Linked DNA regions of Homo sapiens. The protein of the gene in region 2 purifies or fractionates together with the protein of the main gene of each other region. This does not show direct contact. Each region holds a gene or a part of one and is shown on either strand. Other genes may lie near its edges.

Evidence for each region.
Region 1: the proteins of SNRK (region 2) and MME purify together in Homo sapiens (affinity purification with mass spectrometry; one large-scale study listed by BioGRID and IntAct). This does not show direct contact.
Region 3: the proteins of SNRK (region 2) and MYH1 purify together in Homo sapiens (affinity purification with mass spectrometry; one large-scale study listed by BioGRID and IntAct). This does not show direct contact.
Region 4: the proteins of SNRK (region 2) and MYH2 purify together in Homo sapiens (affinity purification with mass spectrometry; one large-scale study listed by BioGRID and IntAct). This does not show direct contact.

The regions. Positions count from the first base shown.
Region 1 is NC_000003.12:155,114,819-155,119,748, forward strand, and holds part of MME (neprilysin), read left to right. Parts: intron 1-175; coding exon 176-337; intron 338-1,660; coding exon 1,661-1,741; intron 1,742-1,845; coding exon 1,846-1,941; intron 1,942-2,049; coding exon 2,050-2,168; intron 2,169-3,927; coding exon 3,928-3,993; intron 3,994-4,930. UniProt on the Homo sapiens protein: Thermolysin-like specificity, but is almost confined on acting on polypeptides of up to 30 amino acids. Biologically important in the destruction of opioid peptides such as Met- and Leu-enkephalins by cleavage of a Gly-Phe bond.
Region 2 is NC_000003.12:43,284,316-43,289,821, reverse strand, and holds the start of SNRK (SNF-related serine/threonine-protein kinase), read right to left. Parts: upstream 3,283-5,506; 5' UTR 3,147-3,282; exon of another isoform or gene 3,014-3,146; intron 83-3,013; exon of another isoform or gene 33-82; intron 1-32. UniProt on the Homo sapiens protein: May play a role in hematopoietic cell proliferation or differentiation. Potential mediator of neuronal apoptosis.
Region 3 is NC_000017.11:10,493,563-10,498,492, forward strand, and holds part of MYH1 (myosin-1), read right to left. Parts: intron 4,356-4,930; coding exon 4,172-4,355; intron 3,891-4,171; coding exon 3,725-3,890; intron 3,632-3,724; coding exon 3,507-3,631; intron 2,988-3,506; coding exon 2,679-2,987; intron 2,592-2,678; coding exon 2,388-2,591; intron 1,756-2,387; coding exon 1,630-1,755; intron 1,540-1,629; coding exon 1,369-1,539; intron 1,112-1,368; coding exon 1,007-1,111; intron 888-1,006; coding exon 792-887; intron 1-791. UniProt on the Homo sapiens protein: Required for normal hearing. It plays a role in cochlear amplification of auditory stimuli, likely through the positive regulation of prestin (SLC26A5) activity and outer hair cell (OHC) electromotility.
Region 4 is NC_000017.11:10,532,030-10,536,959, reverse strand, and holds part of MYH2 (myosin-2), read left to right. Parts: intron 1-353; coding exon 354-430; intron 431-1,594; coding exon 1,595-1,682; intron 1,683-1,769; coding exon 1,770-1,887; intron 1,888-3,327; coding exon 3,328-3,451; intron 3,452-3,538; coding exon 3,539-3,675; intron 3,676-4,930. UniProt on the Homo sapiens protein: Myosins are actin-based motor molecules with ATPase activity essential for muscle contraction.

The DNA.
Region 1 (4,930 bases), about 110 Mb from region 2:
AGAGAACTATACACAGATAGTATTCCTCATCCCCCTGAATTGACTTATATAAAAAAGAAAACGGAGCATCCGACAAATTGATGCAATCAAAAGGGAGCAATAAGCCTTTTTCTCCTTTTAAGCCTCTTAAGAAATAAACCCATCATTTTATCTAGTGTTTTCTCTGCTCTTGCAGCTGCTCGACTGATCCAAAACATGGATGCCACCACTGAGCCTTGTACAGACTTTTTCAAATATGCTTGCGGAGGCTGGTTGAAACGTAATGTCATTCCCGAGACCAGCTCCCGTTACGGCAACTTTGACATTTTAAGAGATGAACTAGAAGTCGTTTTGAAAGGTTAGTAGAGATTGTGTCTGTGCATCAAAGATTTCTCTCTTAATATGTTCATTTTTTAAATATACAATTGTTAGCCATTACAAGGAATGTCACAGAAGATTAAAAAGTTAATAATCCTTCCAGGATTTGTGTACCACCACCAAGTCACTCTGATAGTGGCAGACACTGAAATTAATGTGTTGACATCTCTTAGCATTCCTGCTTTCATTTGTAGGTATGCAAATAATAAAGCGGTATCATCTCTAGAGATGGCAGGTTTGGTTTTTTGTTTGTTTGTTTGTTTGTTTTTTGAGATGGAGTTTTGCTCTTGTCACCCAGGCTGGAGTGCAATGGTGCTATCTCGGCTCACTGCAACTTCTGCCTCCCAGATTTAAGCAATTCTCCTGCCTCAGCCTCCCAAGTAGCTGGGATTGTAGGCACCTGCCATTACACCCAGCTAATTTTTGTATTTTTAGTAGGGACGGGGTTTCACCATGTTGGCCAAGCTGGTCTTGAACTGACCTCAGGTGATCCACCAGCCTTGGCCTCCCAAAGTGCTGGGATTACAGGTGTGAGCCACTATGCCCAGCCAAGATGGTAGTTTTATGCCATTTTACAGAAGAAAAAAAATTAAATGATTGGCACAGAAACCTACTTCTGTAGTCTCCCTACCCAAACCCTGTGTTAAAGTTACTGTAAGATGTTACTAAGATTTGCCTTCCCAGCACAGGTATATTCTAACCTGGCTAAGACTGTCTCCCTGAGAAGTTAAGAAATCTAGCCAAGTCCCTCCTATCCTTTGTTCTCTGTTCTCCCCTCTTCTAGAAGTTATTTTGTAGAAGAACAATTTTTGCTACTTTTTAACATTGAAACAAGTAGGACAATTCAATTCATTCATTTGGAGCATGAACGGTACAGTCACACAAAGATAATTATTTTCCAGCCATCAAAAAGACTATTCATACTAAATTCCAAATTCCTCTGTGTTATTGTTTTTTTTTAATCTCAATTTCAAGAAAAGTAACTGTTACCTATGGCAGAGCCGTATGCATCACTGTTCATAAAAAAAAAAAAAAGATAATCTAGTCAAAAGGACTTTCATCTAAATTGGCTGATTAAACTGACTCCCAGTTCTGTGCTAGGAATGATAATCTGGTAAGGGGTTTGGTTTTTCCTATAATGTTTTGGAACTGGGGGGAGGAAATGAATGTACCTCCAGAAAAGCAAGGTTTTTTTTTAACTGAACCCACTTTGCAAATGTTAATTACTGCAAATGAGCAATTATGTTTGCATAGTGCAAATGAGCAATTATGTTGATGCATTTTATTAAATGTCCTATTTCAGATGTCCTTCAAGAACCCAAAACTGAAGATATAGTAGCAGTGCAGAAAGCAAAAGCATTGTACAGGTCTTGTATAAATGAATGTAAGTGCTCTTCATTTGATTTCATTAGGAGTATATATATATATATATTGGTGCCAAACTATGCCTAGATTTCTAATTGAATTTATGTTTGTTGTTTCCAAAAGCTGCTATTGATAGCAGAGGTGGAGAACCTCTACTCAAACTGTTACCAGACATATATGGGTGGCCAGTAGCAACAGAAAACTGGGAGCAAAAATATGGTAAGGCAATTTTCCTACTAAAAAAGAAATTTCCATGTAAAATCTATGTTATAATATCATTAGTGAACTAAAGCTTCTAAAGATATATTTTATCTTTTATTGCTTTAGGTGCTTCTTGGACAGCTGAAAAAGCTATTGCACAACTGAATTCTAAATATGGGAAAAAAGTCCTTATTAATTTGTTTGTTGGCACTGATGATAAGAATTCTGTGAATCATGTAATTCATGTAAGTTTGTGTGTCAAATAACTAAAGTTACCTTTAAATTGTAATAAAACTTCCACATACATTGTTGTTATTGATATTTAGAAATAATGCTATTTTCAATTGAATTGAATAAGCAAGGAGGTAGTATATCCATGCTCTGTCCCTAATACCTGGAGTTCCAATTTTGAAAGTATTTTCTTAATGCTGTTTTCGACATTCACCCCTTGCTTCTGCTACCTCTGTTTTAGATACCTCTCCCTTCACAAAACAAATGATAAGAAGGGCTCCAGGCCCCTCCTATTCAGAAAAAGTTCCTAATTTCTTTGTATAGTACTTGAAAGGAGCATGCTTTCGTTTATAGAAGTAATGCAGGTCTAGAAACCAAAAAATAATAATTGCTTTCAAAAAGAACACAGAAAAGGGATTTTAAACATCATTTTTTTCCTCACTAAAGAGTATCTGTACTTTTTTCTCAACTAAAGGTAAATAAAATGCCTTTCTTTTAAAATGGATTTATTGTATTTTTACAAATGTAAACAATTTGATTTAGGTGTCACCTAAGACTAGATTAATGACTATGTTTGGAATGTACTGAAAAATATAAAGAGTTTTTCTTTCTTCCTTTTTTTTTTTGTTTTTTTTTTTTTTTGGTTTCCTGTGTAAGAAATTATACAAAAAATTGCAGGCTACTGAATCACCTAATCATATCTGTGTCACTATTGCATAAATCTTTATGGTCGTTTTTGTTAAAATCATGAAAGGAATTGAACCCAAATCTCCTGCAGTGGGCTCTCTCTCTTCTGAAACTTTCTCCTTGCAGGATCACCTTGAGGACCAGGGGGTGGGGAAGGATCAGGGCCCTTCATGTGGAGATATCTTCTGGCTCTTTCCATACCAGTTCTTTGGGTTATGTTTTCTTTTCTATTGGCCTAGGCTCTCCACAGCTGCTAGGATTCTCTCTTTAACCCAGAAATGCTCTGTTTGGCCTCCACACTCATGTTGCCATGCAGTGAGTAGGAAACAATCTTGCAAAGCTGCAGTATGCCCAGATAGCTCCCACTTGGGTATTAAACATGGACCAGACACGTTAGCGCAAAACTGAGTTTCCTCTTTCACACCCTTAACTGCTATCTGGGTCTACTGAGGTTCTTCTGAGCAGAGCAGCTTTGAGGAGAACCAAGGAGAAGTCGCCTCCATTCCCTTAGGGTAGAGAATCTTAAAAAACATTTTCTGGCACAAGTTACATTAGCTAAAAGATTCTGGAGTTACCTTAGAGGTTTTCCACTTCTCCCCTTCTCCCCATCCATCCAAATCAACTTGAAGAATATTAACCCACTCCCACCAATGAAAGGGGATCCCAACTAAGGGTGGAAGCAGATGAGAATGTTCCCAGGGGAGCACATTAGAATCTCAGGAAGCTGAGAAATCTGTGAATATGTAATTTAGAAATTTCCACGTCCTAGAATCTAACATGTTTTTGTTCACTTGCACCTTCTGCTCTGCATTAAAAATCCCTCCTAGTAAATCTTTTGTTCACTTTCTTTTGTTTTCCTTAAATATCTGCAGCACAGTCCTCCAGATTATCTAACTGCCCGTTAGTATAACACTTACAAGTAGTGTAGAAAGCATTTCCTAACTAGGTATTTATTGAGTGTCTGATGGTCACCCCATAAACAGCAAGAGTAGGATCTTTCACATACATAGATAGACATGCTTGTATTTTTCAAACTTTTCTATATTCACTGAATGATTTATTTTCTTTTATGTATATTTTTTATAGATTGACCAACCTCGACTTGGCCTCCCTTCTAGAGATTACTATGAATGCACTGGAATCTATAAAGAGGTAAAAAGAAAAAAAATAATCAAAACCAAACTACAAAATGATCTGGTGTAAACCTACAAGTAATGAAAAAGATAAAGCCAAATTAAATTTAGCCCTCTGATGTTTTTCATTCATGACAGGGACTTAAAATCACACATAATAGTGAGCTGTCTTTGATAGAATGAACATTCTCAATAGAATGAATGAAGGTATTTTACAAAACTAGGAAACTTGAAATTCCTTATTTGTATCTTGGTTTTTAGTATTTAAAACATATGATCGATTTTGAAAAGTTAATTTAAAATATTTTAATCCACCTGTAAACTGCATTATTTAAAAAATGAAAAGATTTATCATGGTCTAGGGTGGTGCTGGTGAGGACCAGAGGGTCAGTGAGAGATACACTCTGCAGCATCCTTCTGGAACCATCTGATTTGACTGTCAGAGAACTATGCAGGTAGTGACATTGGGCTCAGACAAACTTTTGCAGCTACCTTGTGACTCTAACATTGGCCAGGTAGCCAGTGGGCATCATATCCCATAGTGGACGTTTGGATGTTCTGGAGTGCTTTCTTATTGTCTCACAACCTTGCCTCCCTTGGGCTGATGTTCACGTGCTCTTTTTTTTTTTTTTTTTTTATTATACTTTAAGTTTTAGGGTACATGTGCACATTGTGCAGGTTAGTTACATATGTATACATGTGCCATGCTGGTGCGCTGCACCCACTAACTCGTCATCTAGCATTAGGTATATCTCCCAATGCTATCCCTCCCCCCTCCCCCCACCCCACCACAGTCCCCAGAGTGTGATATTCCCCTTCCTGTGTCCATGTGATCTCATTGTTCAATTCCCACCTATGAGTGAGAATATGCGGTGTTTGGTTTTTTGTTCTTGCGATAGTTTACTGAGAATGATTTCCAATTTCATCCATGTCCCTACAAAGGACATGAACTCATC
Region 2 (5,506 bases):
AAAGAGGCCTGATTTGCCATGGAACAGCCTACCTGAGCAGAGGCCAAATGCTGGGGATGCCAAAGCAGACTCTCAGGAGGCTCTGGAAGTGACAGCAGAGAAATAAATGTTCAGGGAGGGCAAAGCAGGAATCCTCTTTAGACAGGTTCCTTCCCTACCACCAGCAAGAAATGGTTTCCCATGAGACACAGAGCCACAACCCAAAGCAGATGTGCAGAAAAGCAGATGAGGATCAATGACGTAGCTCTGGATTATCCAGAGCAGACAACACAGTTCCAGTGCTCACTCGTGAGGCCATTAAATCTGAGGAATTTTATACCAGCTCTTCCCAAAGTTAAAACAAAACAAAACAAACACCTCACCAAAATCCTTCTCCTCCATCCCCCAAAGCAACTGCCCCATTTCCCTCCTTCCTTTTCAAATGCTTTAAGGAAAGAACAGTTGCATTGTCTCAGCCTTCTCAACTCCCTTTCACCCACTTGGATCTATGTTCTTCTCCCACCCACCACTTGACCTTGTCTTCTCACCCTCCCTGAACCCCCTGAGCCTTTTCCCTTTTTCTCTGCCTGGGAATTCTTCCTATTCTTCAAGACCAGTTTAACCATCACCTCCTCTGTGAAGCATTTCCATGTCAGGTTGTTCACTGCCGCCATCCTTGTGCTTCTGCAGGTTTTTCCCTATGCCTCACCACAGTTCATCTGTTCGTACTGTTACTGTTTACCTTGGTGTTCCCCAGTAGCTTCTAAGAACCTACAGTCAGGAACTGGTTTTTATTCACTTTTCTACTGCTGCCCTCCCTCTACCCTAGGGCCACCAAAAGAGACACACAAACATTCCATGAATAAATGATCAAAGGTTAAGTTTATCTTCAGAACTGCTAGGATCCACTCAATTTTTCCACCTAAGTTGTTCTAAGTTTACCTGCACATAGATACACACTGGGAAATACCTAAATTCTGAATAACAGTTTTCTTACTAAAGCATCTTAGTTATAAACACTCTATCTTTAAGCAAACAGCTGGGATGCAGTTACATTAAGTCTAGAGTTTCTCATCTACGGTTTTTAATTCCTAAGATTCTGGCCTATGGAAAGTTCATTTGTACCCTTTTCTTCTTGGGCAGTGTAAAGAGCTCTTAGGATTAGACAAGCTGCTACAGGGAAGAAATCATGTCTTATTTATACCAGTACTTAGAACCATGGCTGCTCAGTATCTCCAGAAATAAATATTTTTCTATTTGGTTTCACTTTCTGTATGAGGGAAGTACTCACAGTGAAGTTCAGATGAACAGTATTTCCTGTGACCAGTAAAAATATCACGAAAGCCCTTCAATTTTAATAAGGACATTTAAAAGCCTTTCTTTTAGGATTATGTGATTAAATCTAAACCATAAAGACCCAACCTATACTTCTGGTCTAGAAAAATAAAATTAGTACAACTTCTGAGTTCTAGCATGTTTTAGACTAATGGATCTTACTGCAGTAAAACAGAAAAAAATACTCAGAATTATTAAAAAATACGGTGAGAGTAATTTTTGTGCACAAAATGAACAATTAAAAACTGATTATACAAATTTAAAAAAAAATTGAAAGGTGGCACTGAAAGTTTCCTGCCTGAAAAGCCTTCAGGATGAGAGTATTATAAAAAGTTAGCACTGTGCACCTGACTTTCTACACTGCTTCAATATGTGACCTTGGAAATGTCATGTAATTTCTCTCATTTCTAGTTCTGTAAAATGGGAATGTCCACCTGTTCTCCTCTCAAGGACAATTACACAGATAATCAGATTAAAAATTTGGTATTTGGTGTTCTTTAAAAAAAGAAACTTGTCTAATTAGTATGCTTTAATCATCACTTGTACAGTACATTCCTCTTCAAGAATCCAATTCCAAGAGAAATATTTAAGCAGACGTTGAGGACAGATTTCCTTAAGGGAATTATTTTATAAATCTGGAAAGCAATGTAACGAGATTATAAATTAACAAACTGATTACATAAGCCTTGACAACCCGGGCTTTAAAGTACACTGCTGTATATATTCTGATAAGTTAAAGACTGGTTTGGGACATAGTGCTCCAATCCCATACAAGGAGCCCAAACTCAGGCATTTCATGTTTGATAGGAACTTGGTGGAGATTCAACAGGATGTCCAACACTTGCAAGCCATGCTTCACCTTAAAACCTGACAAAATGTTTAAGGCATTAAGTCAACTTTACCACGGTTCCTAAGACTTTAAGAATGCACATAATTAAAGGGAAGGGGGGTGGAAAGTAACATGACAGTTTGAAAGGTCCCATATCCTCAGACCTCTATAGATTTAGGAACTCCACTGCTAAATTCTCCCCAAAGCCTGAAACTCCCTATGAAACTACTGGACTGTATGCGATCCAACAGTTACAAATAGCACAGCTCCAAGAACCCCGAAGATAAAAGGCTGCCACTTTCCTGCAACCCAAGTCCAAGTAAAAGGCAGGAAGGTCCCTGTAAAATGGACCAGAAAGAAATCAACAGGCGATGACTATGGAAAAGAACGTAGATTTCCCAGTCTCCCAGTCTGCAAAAATTCTAGCTCTCCCTCGGGAATGGCACTGCTCCTCTTTCCTTACCCCTTTGCCCTTTCTCTACAGACAACATCCCCACTCTATTGTAAAGCAGTTTGACCACGGAACCCTTTTGCTGAGGCCGGATTTCTACAGTCTTCTGAAAGGGGAAAACGCATTCAAAGAACACACACCCTACCAAGCGCCCAGGGCGCGGGGCCCCGCGGGCGCCGCACTCGGCCCGCTCCGGGGCGGGGCGCGGGGATGCGGGCGCCTTCCGAGGTGCCGCAATCCCGCCGCGGCCGCAAGGGCAGGGCCTCCAGGCGACCGCGGCCGCCGCCGCAGTGACGGCTCCCGCCGGGCCCCGCCGCCGCCCCGCCGCCAGGCCGCGCCGCGGGGTCCGGGCCACCGCAGCCCGGGCCCCGCGTCCTCCCGGGCCGCGCGCTGCGGCCGGCGCCGAGAGCGCAACTTACTTTCCGCCTGCGGCGAGCGCCCCGGCCCGGGCGCCCAGCCCGGCAACAGCGGAGGCTACTGAGGCGGCGGAGGCCGGCCCCGCACCCCTGCCTACGGCCGCCGCGCCCCGCCGCGCTCCGCGCTCGCCCCTACCTCAGCCGGCAGGCGAGCGTCCGTCCGCAGCGGCCGCGGCGCCGACAACTCCCTCCCGGCCGCCGAAACCCCGCACCCAGCGCTAATCATAATACCGAGCGGGCTGCCGGCCGCGGGGAGGGGGTGCCGGGTAGCTGCGCCTGCGCGGGCTGCGCGTCACTGTGACGTCAGCGCTGGGGCGGGGCCGCGGGAAGGGCAGGGCGGGGCGGCGCGCACCTGCGGCCGGCGCGCGGGCTGCTGGAGGGCATCCTGGCGGCTTTCTGACCCCGGCGAGTCGGGGCTGAGGCGGCTGGCGGGACAAAGCGGGCAAGGCGCCCAAGGAGGATGGAGGACGGGGGAGGAGGAAGCACCAGGGACACGGAACAATGGCCGGGAAAAAGTAGCGCGAGCTGTCAGGGGAAATCGGAGGGAAGGGACCGCGTCTGTACAGGACTGCGTCTTGGCGGCAGGGGGCAGGGAGCCGCACGCGCTTTACTCTTTGGTTCCCGCCCAGGTTTAAACAAGGATAAAAAAATTGTAAAAATACATATACATACACACATGCACATATGTATATACATATATATACATAATATGATTTTTTTCTCTGTAGTTTCTTCTCCCTGGGACTCTAATTTGAAAAAATTCGGTTGATTTTGTTGTTATTTAAGCAAAATTGGAAAAGCCCAACATCTGAATGCAGTGCTGGCCTTAAAGGTCAGCGGGAGACACAGGCCCTGCTAGGCAGCCTCTGGCAACAGCATAGAAAAGTAAACGGTCGTGGGGACACATCAAAGCACGTGAAGTCAGAGATTCAAAACACGCCGGGCATTAACCATAGCCCTTGATGGTTCAGTGGTATGGTCGCCAGGCCAGGTTGCTCTGGAAGGGAGCTTAGGGATGGCCGCAGAGGGTGGGAGGGGACTCCCGACTCCCACCCCTGGAAGCATGGCATGCAATAGAGACCAGCTCTTCAGGGTTCCTGGAAGGGAACACCAACAAACCAGACGCCAGATTTCTTCAACCTGCTTTTCCCCTTCTGTTCCCACGTTGTGTCCACCCTTCCCCAAGAAAGGACCCCTAGCAAGGAAGGACACAAGCCAGAAGAGCTGCGGAGATGCTGCAGGCTTGGTTGAATTGACTGGACTGCGAAGAGAAATCTAGATGGTTTTAGCAAATCTCTGTTGACCTGCAAATGTCAAAAGCCTTTTAGCTTCTATGCATCAACTTTGCATGTCTGAAGATGATTGGGAAGCAGGAGTGGATTGTTGGGAGGTGCAAACAGTTTGATTCTTAGGGTAATAACATAGGGTTTTCTGATCAAGGGGACTCCCAGTTACCCTAATACCCTTGCATCAGGTGGTGGGAGAGCACCAGGGAAAGCCTCAGATTAGGCCTCTGCGCCTTAGGGTCCCACCTGGGATCACTCTGACCTGAAAAGACCATAAAAGAGTCATCTCATTTTGACATGGAAATCGTAACTGTAGCAGCATATTAAGCAAGAGCTCCTAACTTGGATTTGTAGAATTTGTCCTTTTGTTGCTAGAAATCAGGAAGACCATGCACTTTTCTCCTCAGGGAGATATCACTATTCAGGGAACTCTGTAGCCAACTAAAGGGAGAAAATACCACTGTAATGGTCTCCCAAGGGATTTCCAGTGGTCGAAGGCCTCCACCCCTGGGTCTGTAGTCCCTGAGTTATATCAGTAACTACAGAACAATGACGATAATATATAAGCTCTTGAAAAATAAAGTATTTATATTGCTGCTGTTTAACTAGGTTTTGAATAAATTTTCTAAGGAAAACAAGGCATAAAAGAGCAAAACAAATGAAAAAGGGCAAAATAATAAATTGATTTAAATGAAGTTGGCTGCAATACTCTTCTAGAGAAGGACGCAGTACTGGCCACATGGTAAATCATTTATTCATCCCCAGTATTTCTTGGGTAGCTGAAGTGCTGCTGGCAAGAATATGACCCAGTTTTGGTTCCACACCATAAATGTGGTGACATGATTTGATTATGCTTCGGCAATATTTTAAGATATTCAAGTACAAATTAATAGTATTACTTAAGTTGGAATTTAAGCAAATGTGCTTATAGTTAATGAAGAAACTCCTTTTCCACTCTGCCCTGGGGCTTTCTCCAACACACTGCTTTTTTAATGTTGGGTCTTTTTATGGACCTGTAAGAAGCTTTAATTAGATGTACAGCATTCTACAAAACGACAAGATGAAGCATGCTTGCTTGTATTACAGTCTCTGTGATTCAGATCTCAAAAATAACATAATGCCACCAGTTTAAGGAAGATGTTGTTTATTGGAAGGAAACCAGGGAGGTGCCACAAATTAGATCAAAATGTGAAAATTGAGCAGACTGATG
Region 3 (4,930 bases), on a different chromosome or scaffold from region 2:
CCTTCTGAGTTTCAGAATCTTATATTTAACTATTTACTTGACATGTTCACTTGTGTATATATGGTATTATGTATCTAAAACAGAATTCCTGTTTCTTTCTTGCCCTGCAATTCTGTTCTTCCCTTTGTTCCCCACTTAAGTGTTACATCATCCACTTGGTTACTCAAACCATAAACTTGATAAATTACTCTTAATTGCCTTTCTTTCATCTCCCAAGTGCAACCTATTAGCAATCTTGTAGTTTCTACCTCCAAAATATGTCCTGAATTTCTCCACTTCTCTCTGCTCCACTCTCTTATCCAAGCCACAGAACCGACCTGAAAAGCTTCCTAACATGTCTCTCTGCACCCACTTGTGTTACCCAGTAACCGATTCTTTACATAGTATCCCAAATGCTCTTTTTAAAAAATATAGATCAGGTAGTGACTGACCCACATTAAAACCCTCCCTGGCTTCCCAGTACCTTATTGTTCTTACCATGGCCTGGAAGACCCTATGAGCTGCCTCCTGCCTGGCTCTCCAGTCCCAGTTGTGGTGCTTTCCTCCTTTTTTTGTCTGCTTCTTGAGCCAGACTCTTTCCCACTCAAAAGCTTTGCATTTGCTCTTCCCCATCTCTAGAACATCTTCTGCTGGCTTGTCAGGTGGTTGGTTTTACCTCAGCCTTGGACCTCCATGTAGCCATTTGTTTTCTTTTGATCCTTCCTCATTTTACTCATCTTTTCTTTTGTCACTTTAACTAAACTGGCCTGGTCATGTCTGAGAAAAATCACCCCAAGGGGTTGTGAACTCACCGCTTCTTCAGCTTGTCTCTTGTAGGATTTCACCTTTGCTTGCAGTTTGTCCACCAGGTCCTGGAGCCTGAGAATATTCTTGCGGTCTTCCTCAGTCTGAAATAATGTTTTCAAGAGTAAGTTTCTTGAAAGTACAAATATTACATTTTGTCATACATATGACTTTTAATCCCATGTGGACTAAAGTGAAAACCTAGACAGGCCATTTTCCTTACTTGGTAAGTGAGTTCCTTCACTTTTCTCTCATGTTTGCGTAGACCCTTGACAGCTTCAACATTGCGCTTCTGTTCACTTTCAACTTCACCTTCAAGTTCACGAACCTACAAGAAGATGGACATTTTAAGGACATTCATTTGACGAATTTCTACTTCTTCACATGACCCACATACTTCTTCTACTCTGCTTTATATGTAGTTTTTAATGCCCTAGTTCAGTTTTCCTTATTATGAGCTTTTGGGCATGAGGGAATAGCTCTCCCTCATCTCAGTATGCCCCACATCATCTAGCAGTGCTAGGTATTCAGAATCGTGTGTTGGATTGGAATGAGATAGAAATACATGCTGATTAGGAGACCCACCCTGGCCTCCAGTTTCTGGATCTGCTTCTTCCCACCCTTCAGGGCCAGCTGCTCAGCCTCATCCAGACGATGCTGCAGGTCCTTCACCGTCTGTTCCAGGTTCTTCTTCATCCGCTCCAGATGGGCGCTGGTGTCCTGTTCCTTCTTCAGCTCCTCAGCCATCATGGCAGCCTAATTAGCAGTAAAACAGAATGGGTTAAGACAGCTAAGACAGCACATTAAGATTTAAGTTTGACCACCACTGTGTTACCCTTCACTCACATCAGTGATGGCCTTCTTGGCCTTCTCTTCTGCATTGCGGGCTTCCTGGATGATGTCTTCCATCTCTCCCTGGATTTGGGAAATGTCTGTCTCCAGCTTCTTCTTGGTGTTGATCAGGCTGGTGTTCTGTTTAAAATGTGAAATTTAGAAATATTAGGCACATGAGAGAAAAATTAGGAAACCTCATGTTCTAATGAACCATAAACTAATTAACTAAATGAATTCATTAATATTCCTCCTTGTTTCATAAATTATCTGAGTTGACATATGTTTAAAAGACAATCAACTGGCCGGGCGCGGTGGCTCATGCTTGTAATCCCAGCACTTTGGGAGGCCGAGGCGGGTGGATTACGAGATCAGGAGATCAAGACCATCCTGGCTAACACGGTGAAACCCCGTCTCCACTAAAAATACAAAAAATTAGCCGGGCGTGGTGGCGGGCGCCTGTAGTCCCAGGTACTCCGGAGGCTGAGGCAGGAGAATGGCGTGAGCCCGGGAGGTGGAGCTTGCAGCGAGCCGAGGTTGCGCCACTGCACTCCAGCCTGAGCGACAGAGCGAGACTCCGTCTCAAAAAAAAAAAAAAAATCAACTATGGATGTTATAGTTCAGATAAGAATATAGATAATCAAAAAAATAAAATATTTTAAACTTTATCCTTCATGAAATCTTATAAATAGATTTCTTAATAGTACCACGATTTCAGCAAGAATGTCATTTTCATACCCTTGTATTTGTTGCTATTCTATTATTACATGCACCTGGGTGTGCAGGAGCTGAACACGCTCACTGGCATCCAGGAGCTCCTGTTCTGCGATTTTCCTGCTCCTCTCTGTCTGTTCCAGAGTGGCCCGCAGCTCCTCGATCTCAGCCTGCAGCAGGTTGGCTCTGCGCTCCACCATAGCCAGCTGTTCCTTCAGGTCCTCCTGGCTCCGGAGAGCATCATCCAGGTGGAGCTGGGTATCCTGTGGAACAAACCGTCATTGAGACACCATGTATTCAGGGTTGCAGGCACCCCAATTGTCCTGGGATCATCTGTTGGACATATTTACCTTGAGGATGGCTTGGGTGTTCCTATAGTTCCTCAGGGCCTCAGCAGCCATGCGGTTGGCATGGTTCAGCTGGATTTCCATTTCATTGAGGTCTCCCTCCATCTTCTTCTTGAGCCTAATGGCATCATTCCTGCTCCTGATCTCAGCATCCAGTGTGCTCTGCATGGACTCCACGATTCTAATGTGGTTTCTCTTCATCTGGTCAATTTCCTCATCTTTTTCAGCAATTTTCCTATCAACCTCAGACTTGACTTGGTTCAACTCAAGCTGGATGCGCAGGATCTTTCCCTCTTCATGTTCAAGAGATGCCTTAATGACAGCAAGAGGTGACATTAGTAGAGTAATGGAAGTGTGTAGTATTCTAGAGATAAGAATGATTTATCATTCATGAAACCTTATTTATAAATAGATTTCTAAGTAGTAGTAAGATTTAAACAAGAGTGTCATTTTCATGCCTTTGCATTTTCTTGCTATTCTCTAACACACACACTGTCTGCCTTTGTGCTGCCATCATACATTTTTATTTTGTTGTTTTAGACATTTCTACAAATTATTGAATGTTATTGTTGATTTTATATGCTTTTATCTCCCTAGGTAGATTGTGCCCTTGAAAGCAGGGCCTTTAACTGATTCATCTTTGTTTGCTCAGTGTGTAGCACAGTTCCTGACATATGGTTATGTTGGTTGTATGCATGATCAGTTCTCCATTCTCATCCCTAGTTCATGGAGCAAAAATTATTTTTCGTTTCTCTTGATTCACCATTCCTTACATTTAATAGACCCCAATTCCTCTTCTAATTGTTTTAGAGTATGCAATAAAATGCTTACCTCTGCCTCCTCTAAGGCAGCCTGAAGTTCAGACTTTTCTTGCTCAACTTGCTTCTTTATTTTTTCCAGTTCATGGATGCGCTTTCCTCCTTCTGCAATCTGTTCAGTGAGATCAGAAATCTCCTCTGTTGGTGAACAAAAAATATAGAAATTTGTTTATAGTTGGAAAAGATTCTTTCAAATCTTTTATTGTTAAAGAAAAGGTAAAATGTTCTCACGTTGCAAATTCTTATTTTCCCGTTTCAAGGTTTCAAGTTGGTCTAAAGATTCCTCATAAGCATTCTTAATCTTAAATAGTTCTGTGCTGAGTGAGCGGGATTCCTTTTGAGAAGCTTCAAGTTCAGCATGAGTTTCTTCACACTTCTGTTTCCATTCTGCCAGGATCTGAAGGTCAAGGAATGGACAAGAAATTTAGTGGACAAAATTTGATGAGATAAAAACCATCTATTCTAGCACCTCTCAGAGTTGAGGTGTTCTGGGACTGAAAAAAAATTATGAATGAGAAGAATAGAAACCATAGGAGCACTTCCCCTCTCCACAGACAGCTGCTGATGGGTTAAGAGCTACTGAGAACAGCCCTCAGATGGTTTGAATTGGGCACACTGAAGGTAGCAGGCTATTGTTAATTCTGTGTTGAAAGTTGAAGCAAAAACTGGAGAGAATACCTTATCAAAGTTCCTTTGCTTTTTGTCCAGGGCGGCACAGGCAGCATTTGTCCTCTCAACATCAATCATGAGGTCCTCAACTTCATTCTGGAGCCTCTGCTTCGTCTTCTCAAGGGAAGCACATTTGGCATTCACAGCTTCTACATGTTCCTCAGCATCCTGCAGACGCTGAGCCAGCTTCTTCCTATGAAATATGGGCAATAAAAGTGAATGGCTGTCAACTGAATTGGGTGTTTCAAAGTGGGTACAAGAGAGTGAATTCCACAATCAGACTTCTTTAATACTTTGCTTCTCAAGCTTGTTTTGTAGGTCCAGTTCTATATTAACTCATTCCCATTATCCTACCACCAAATACCAAAAACAACCCCAGTTTTGGTATTGCCATACTTCATAGAGTGGCTTTAAGGCCATCCATGACAAGCATGAGCTAACACTTTACCCTTCCAGGTAGCTGGTTTATTCCTCTTCTGTAGAATATTAATATCTACCTTGAATTACTGGTTTGTTTTTCTGTGTCTCCACATAATTTTAATCCCCAGAGGGAGAGTCTGTACTGTACTAATCTTTGTATTCTTGTAGGCTGTCCAACATATTAAGGGCTCAAATGTTGGATAAATTGAATTCAAATGAAATATACTTGATTTTGTCTGTCTAATTGTATCCCTTATTTGTGCTAGTTTTTAATTAATCCATTAATAATAAAGAAGCTTTCCCACATCAATATACATTTTGCATCGAGAACTCCTCTCAGAATCTCTT
Region 4 (4,930 bases), on a different chromosome or scaffold from region 2:
AGGATATATAGAGTATCTGAGGGTATAAATCTTAGGCAACAGAGTGACAAACTTCCACCTCTCAGTACTAGCTTCTATTGATGATTTTTGAAGTTAGCTCCTCACATGTCCTAATATTAGGGAATCCCTCTCTATACGGTCAGGTGAATATCCCTGGCCTCATTTCCCACTGGAGAAAGAATCACAGATAAGTGGCTGCAAACTTAGTTGAAAAATAAGATTCATTCAGGCTCAATCAGAGAGGCCAGCTGGGTAGAAAAAAGGCTCCACTCGATGAACACAGAAATCAGCAAATACGCAAGAAGTAGCCCTGCCAATTCAAAACAGTATTTCTTTTCTTCCTTTTTCTTCAGAGGGAGCTGGTGGAGGGGCCAAGAAAGGTGGTAAGAAGAAGGGCTCTTCTTTCCAGACAGTGTCTGCCCTTTTCAGAGTAAGGAAGAAATTGTTTTTGACATTCTCCAATTACTTTGGGATTTTTTTTACATGGGTCTGTTTTTCTGAACTTCTATTTTTGTTCTAAGGATATATTTATCTATTCATATACTAATATCACATTACATTTATTAAAATTACTTTGTAATATGCTTTGACATCTCGCTGGGCAAAATTCCCCTCGTCTTTTCTTTTTTTAAATTTATTTTTTATTTCAATAGGTTTTGGGGAACAGGTGGTGTTGGGTTACATGCATAAGTTCTTTAGTGGTGATTTCTGAGATTTTGGTGCACCCATCACCAGAGCAGTGTACACTGTACCCAATGCATAAAATTTGCTTTTAAAAGTACAAGATCATTCCATGAGTAGTTTAGAAAAGGACTGATAGTAACTAGTGACTCTGTTGATCTAACTTTGGAAAGAAGGGATTTAAATTACTCAGAAATTATTAGTTCACTTTTCATGCTAAGTCAAATAATGAGAAATATTTTATAGAAAATCTTATAGACCATAATACTCTGCCATTCATAATCTAGCTGAGCCATGAAAAAGAGCAATGACATGAACTCAGAGAGACTAAAAGACATCAGTATGGCTAATGAACTCATGAATTCTAGCAGCAAATCTGCAGTGCAGCTAATATGGTATCCTTGCTCTTAATCGAGTCAATTTTCAATTATAATTGGTAGGATTGCTCCCCTGTAGATAATCTCTATCCCCTAAAAATTGATAGAGCTGGAAAAGAGGAGCTGTATTATAAGGAAAACGTCCAAATGTGGTGCAGGCTTCCATTTCCTTATTGGAGAACTATGGAATTTGGTAGAAGAAAGAGCGATCATCTCGCATGGGAAGGCAATGGCCTTGTAAATGTATGTGTATGGCCAGGGACCAGGGTAGAAAGGATGGTGTTGGCATAAACTGAAAAGAAGCACATGCCAGGATGCTTTCCTTGTTCTGTGTGTAACTCTCGGAAACTCAAGTGCAGAAAGATCTATTGAGGAGGAAAAAGCATCTCAGAAGAAGCATTCAAAGTGTTGCCTTATATGAATGCAGTCCATACTGGTCATTCAACTCAGCTATAGATATTGATTTTATAGACACCAATGACTGCTCATATCCATGTCTAGAGCCTAAAATGACAGGATTTTTCCTGGTTTTACAGGAGAATTTGAACAAGCTGATGACCAACCTCAGGAGTACCCATCCTCACTTTGTGAGGTGTATCATCCCCAATGAGACAAAAACTCCTGGTAAGAAATTCCATAATGAAAGTGCAAAGGATGACTGCCACACCTCCTTTTCAACAGCTCTGCAGTGAAATAAATATGCATTTTTAGGTGCCATGGAGCATGAGCTTGTCCTCCACCAGCTGAGGTGTAACGGTGTGCTGGAAGGCATCCGCATCTGTAGGAAAGGATTTCCAAGCAGAATCCTTTATGCAGACTTCAAACAGAGGTCAGTTTCTCCTGATTATGGTGTATTCTGAAGTTTAATATGAACAAGTTTAATGCAAGCAAAACAATTTAGTGAAACATATGCCTCTACTTGTTAGTTTTGTCACAAAAAGAAGTAAAAAAATTACAAGTCTCAAGTCTCGAACACTTTTGTTTTGAGACAAAGTCTTGCTCTGTCACCCAGGCTGGAGTGCAATGGCGTGATCTCAGTTCACTGCAACCTCTGCCTCCTGGGTTCAAGCGATTCTCCTGCCTCAGCCTCCCAAGTAGCTGGGACTACAGGCATATGCCACCACGCCCAGCTAATTTTTGCATTTTTAGTACAGATGGGGTTTCACCATGCTGGCCAGGCTAGTCTCAAACTCCTGACCTCAGGTCATCCGCCAGCCTTGGCCTCCAAAAGTTTTGGGATTACAGGCATGAGCCACCATGCCCAGCCTCAAATACTTTTAAAATATAAATATACAAAATTTTAAGCACCTTGTGGAATTTTCATTGGATTTATCAGGCACTTAGCTTAGCTCATAGATGCACACGTTAACTCCAATAATAATTAAGAACGACCTTTTTGAGTGCTTAATATGTTCAGATTATCTTGTTTAATCCTCGCAAAAACACAGTGCAAGTAGGTACTATTAAGACTTCACTTTATAGATGAATAAGCTGAGGCTCAGGGAAATTAAGGTACTTGCCCAAAGTCACAGTTATTAAGTGGTTGAGTTAGAAACTCTTCCATACAAACATAGCTATTCATTTTCTGTCATTTCCTTTGGTATCATCTATGTTCGTCTTTTTCTCCCACATATTAGACTCCCAGGGTTTCCTGGAGGCAGAGGGAACATGTCACAATGACTGTTCCTCAGGTCCCTTTTCTCCTCTCTAGATAAGCCCATCTTGAGAATCAAAGAAAAGGCAGAGGTGGGGAAGGACTGGGTAGCAGCTGCTAGGAGCTGATCTCTCCCAGGTCTGGGTCAGGTGGCACTGACAGAGGATTCCAGGGCTCAAGATCCAAAGCATGTCTAAGTTTGATTTTAGGTGATTAGGATAGTTCTGAATACCTAAAGTGTACTGTCTACCAAATTCTTCAATGAAAAGTAGCTTTCTTGGATTCAGGGCCTTAAAAAGCAAATGCATCTAGTAAAGATAACAGATTACATTTTATTGGTTAGGCACACCATAATGTGTCCCTTTCTTAAGGCAGAACCCTTTTCTAAGAACAGGGTCTGATGAGACAGAAAGGAAAGTTGCAACTGCGAGGGAAAGGCAAATGGAATAAAAATTGGTTGCCAAAGGGTTGACCATTCAAATAAACAATGTTCTCCTTGTGAACAAAGAATAATATTTTTTTAAAGCTCTGCTTTAAAAAATGAATCATTTAATGTTTAGCTAGCATTTGTGTCATCAGTAAACTAGTTGTTAAAAGCTATATGTACTTCAACAGATACAAGGTATTAAATGCAAGTGCAATCCCTGAAGGGCAATTCATTGATAGCAAGAAGGCCTCTGAGAAGCTCCTTGCATCCATCGACATTGACCACACCCAGTATAAATTTGGGCACACCAAGGTAATTTTCTGTAAATCCTACCTGATGCTATTCCTGTCCCTTTGAACTTTATTAAAGCTTGTGATTTGCAACTCTTTCCATTCACAGGTCTTTTTCAAAGCTGGTCTTCTGGGGCTCCTAGAGGAGATGCGAGATGACAAGCTGGCCCAGCTGATTACCCGAACCCAGGCCAGGTGCAGAGGGTTCTTGGCAAGAGTGGAGTACCAGAGGATGGTGGAGAGAAGGTATAAAAAATATGTTTATTCACATATTCCATCTTCAAAAACATATTTGAAATGGCTTACAGTTAAGACTCAGCTTATGATAAGGACACTAAAGAAGAAATGAATAAGAGTCCTATAATGAAGTGGGAATACACATGTACCAGAAAACTTAAGGAAGGAACCATCACCATCTGATTGCATGGGTAAAAACTTGAGAAGTTAGGTAAGAAGTGTGTACTTCTTATCTAATAAGATAAAATACACCAGTGAGTAAGCAGAAGCAAACTTTTGCCCTAGCACCTGTTTCTAATATGAATTTATTGGACAGATCATTAGATAAGGGACATTGACCTGCAAAACAGACAGTATACTCAAGAGTGCTTTTACACAGGCTGTAGAGACAACTTTTTCCCTCTGATCATTTATATTATCAAACTCTCATGATTTAAAATATTAGGGGCCATTTATCTGTGAAAGACTTTTTGCAGTAAGTTAACACAATGCATCAGGGAATGTAGCTATTTGGTGATCTAATTTGATGCAAGGACAGAGTTCAAAGACTATAGAGCCAGGTGTCTCAAAGTACAGGATGTCTGTGATCAGGACCATTTCTCCATGTTGAGAAAGGCATTTTACATTGCCACCTATACATCTACACATATACATATGTGTATGCAGATATATAAATAATTTATATGAAGCAAATTTTATTTTTACCACTTGTAATTATGCTAATATTTTCAACTATATTCCATTTTATTAAAAATAATAAATTTTGGTCATGATCCACGATATATATATATTTGGGTAATTGTCTATATATGGGGTAATTAGCTGTAAAAATCATTTAGATGAAAACAAAAGTGGTATTAGAGAATAGAATACAAAATTCACACAACATTAACATATAAAGCCAGATATTTTCTAAGAAATTCTGAGTTTTTAATATCTCCTGCCCCATATACCCCTAAAGAGCTGTGTTCCCCCTTCACTGCCCTTAGTGGTGTTTTAGTAGCAATGTTTGAGAAGCACTGACATACAGCAAGGCTTCTCAAAGGGTGCTCCTTGGACTTGCAACATCAGCATTTCTTGCAAACTTGTTAAAAGTGCCAATTTTCAGGCTCCACCCTAGATCTTCTGAATCTGAATCTGAATCTACGGAGGTGAGGTTCAGGAGTCAGTATTTTAACAAGCCCTTCAGGTGATTCTTATGCATGCCAAAGTTTGAGAAGCAGTGATGTAGAGAAATGAGTGACCTTAGCAAGACCTTGACCAT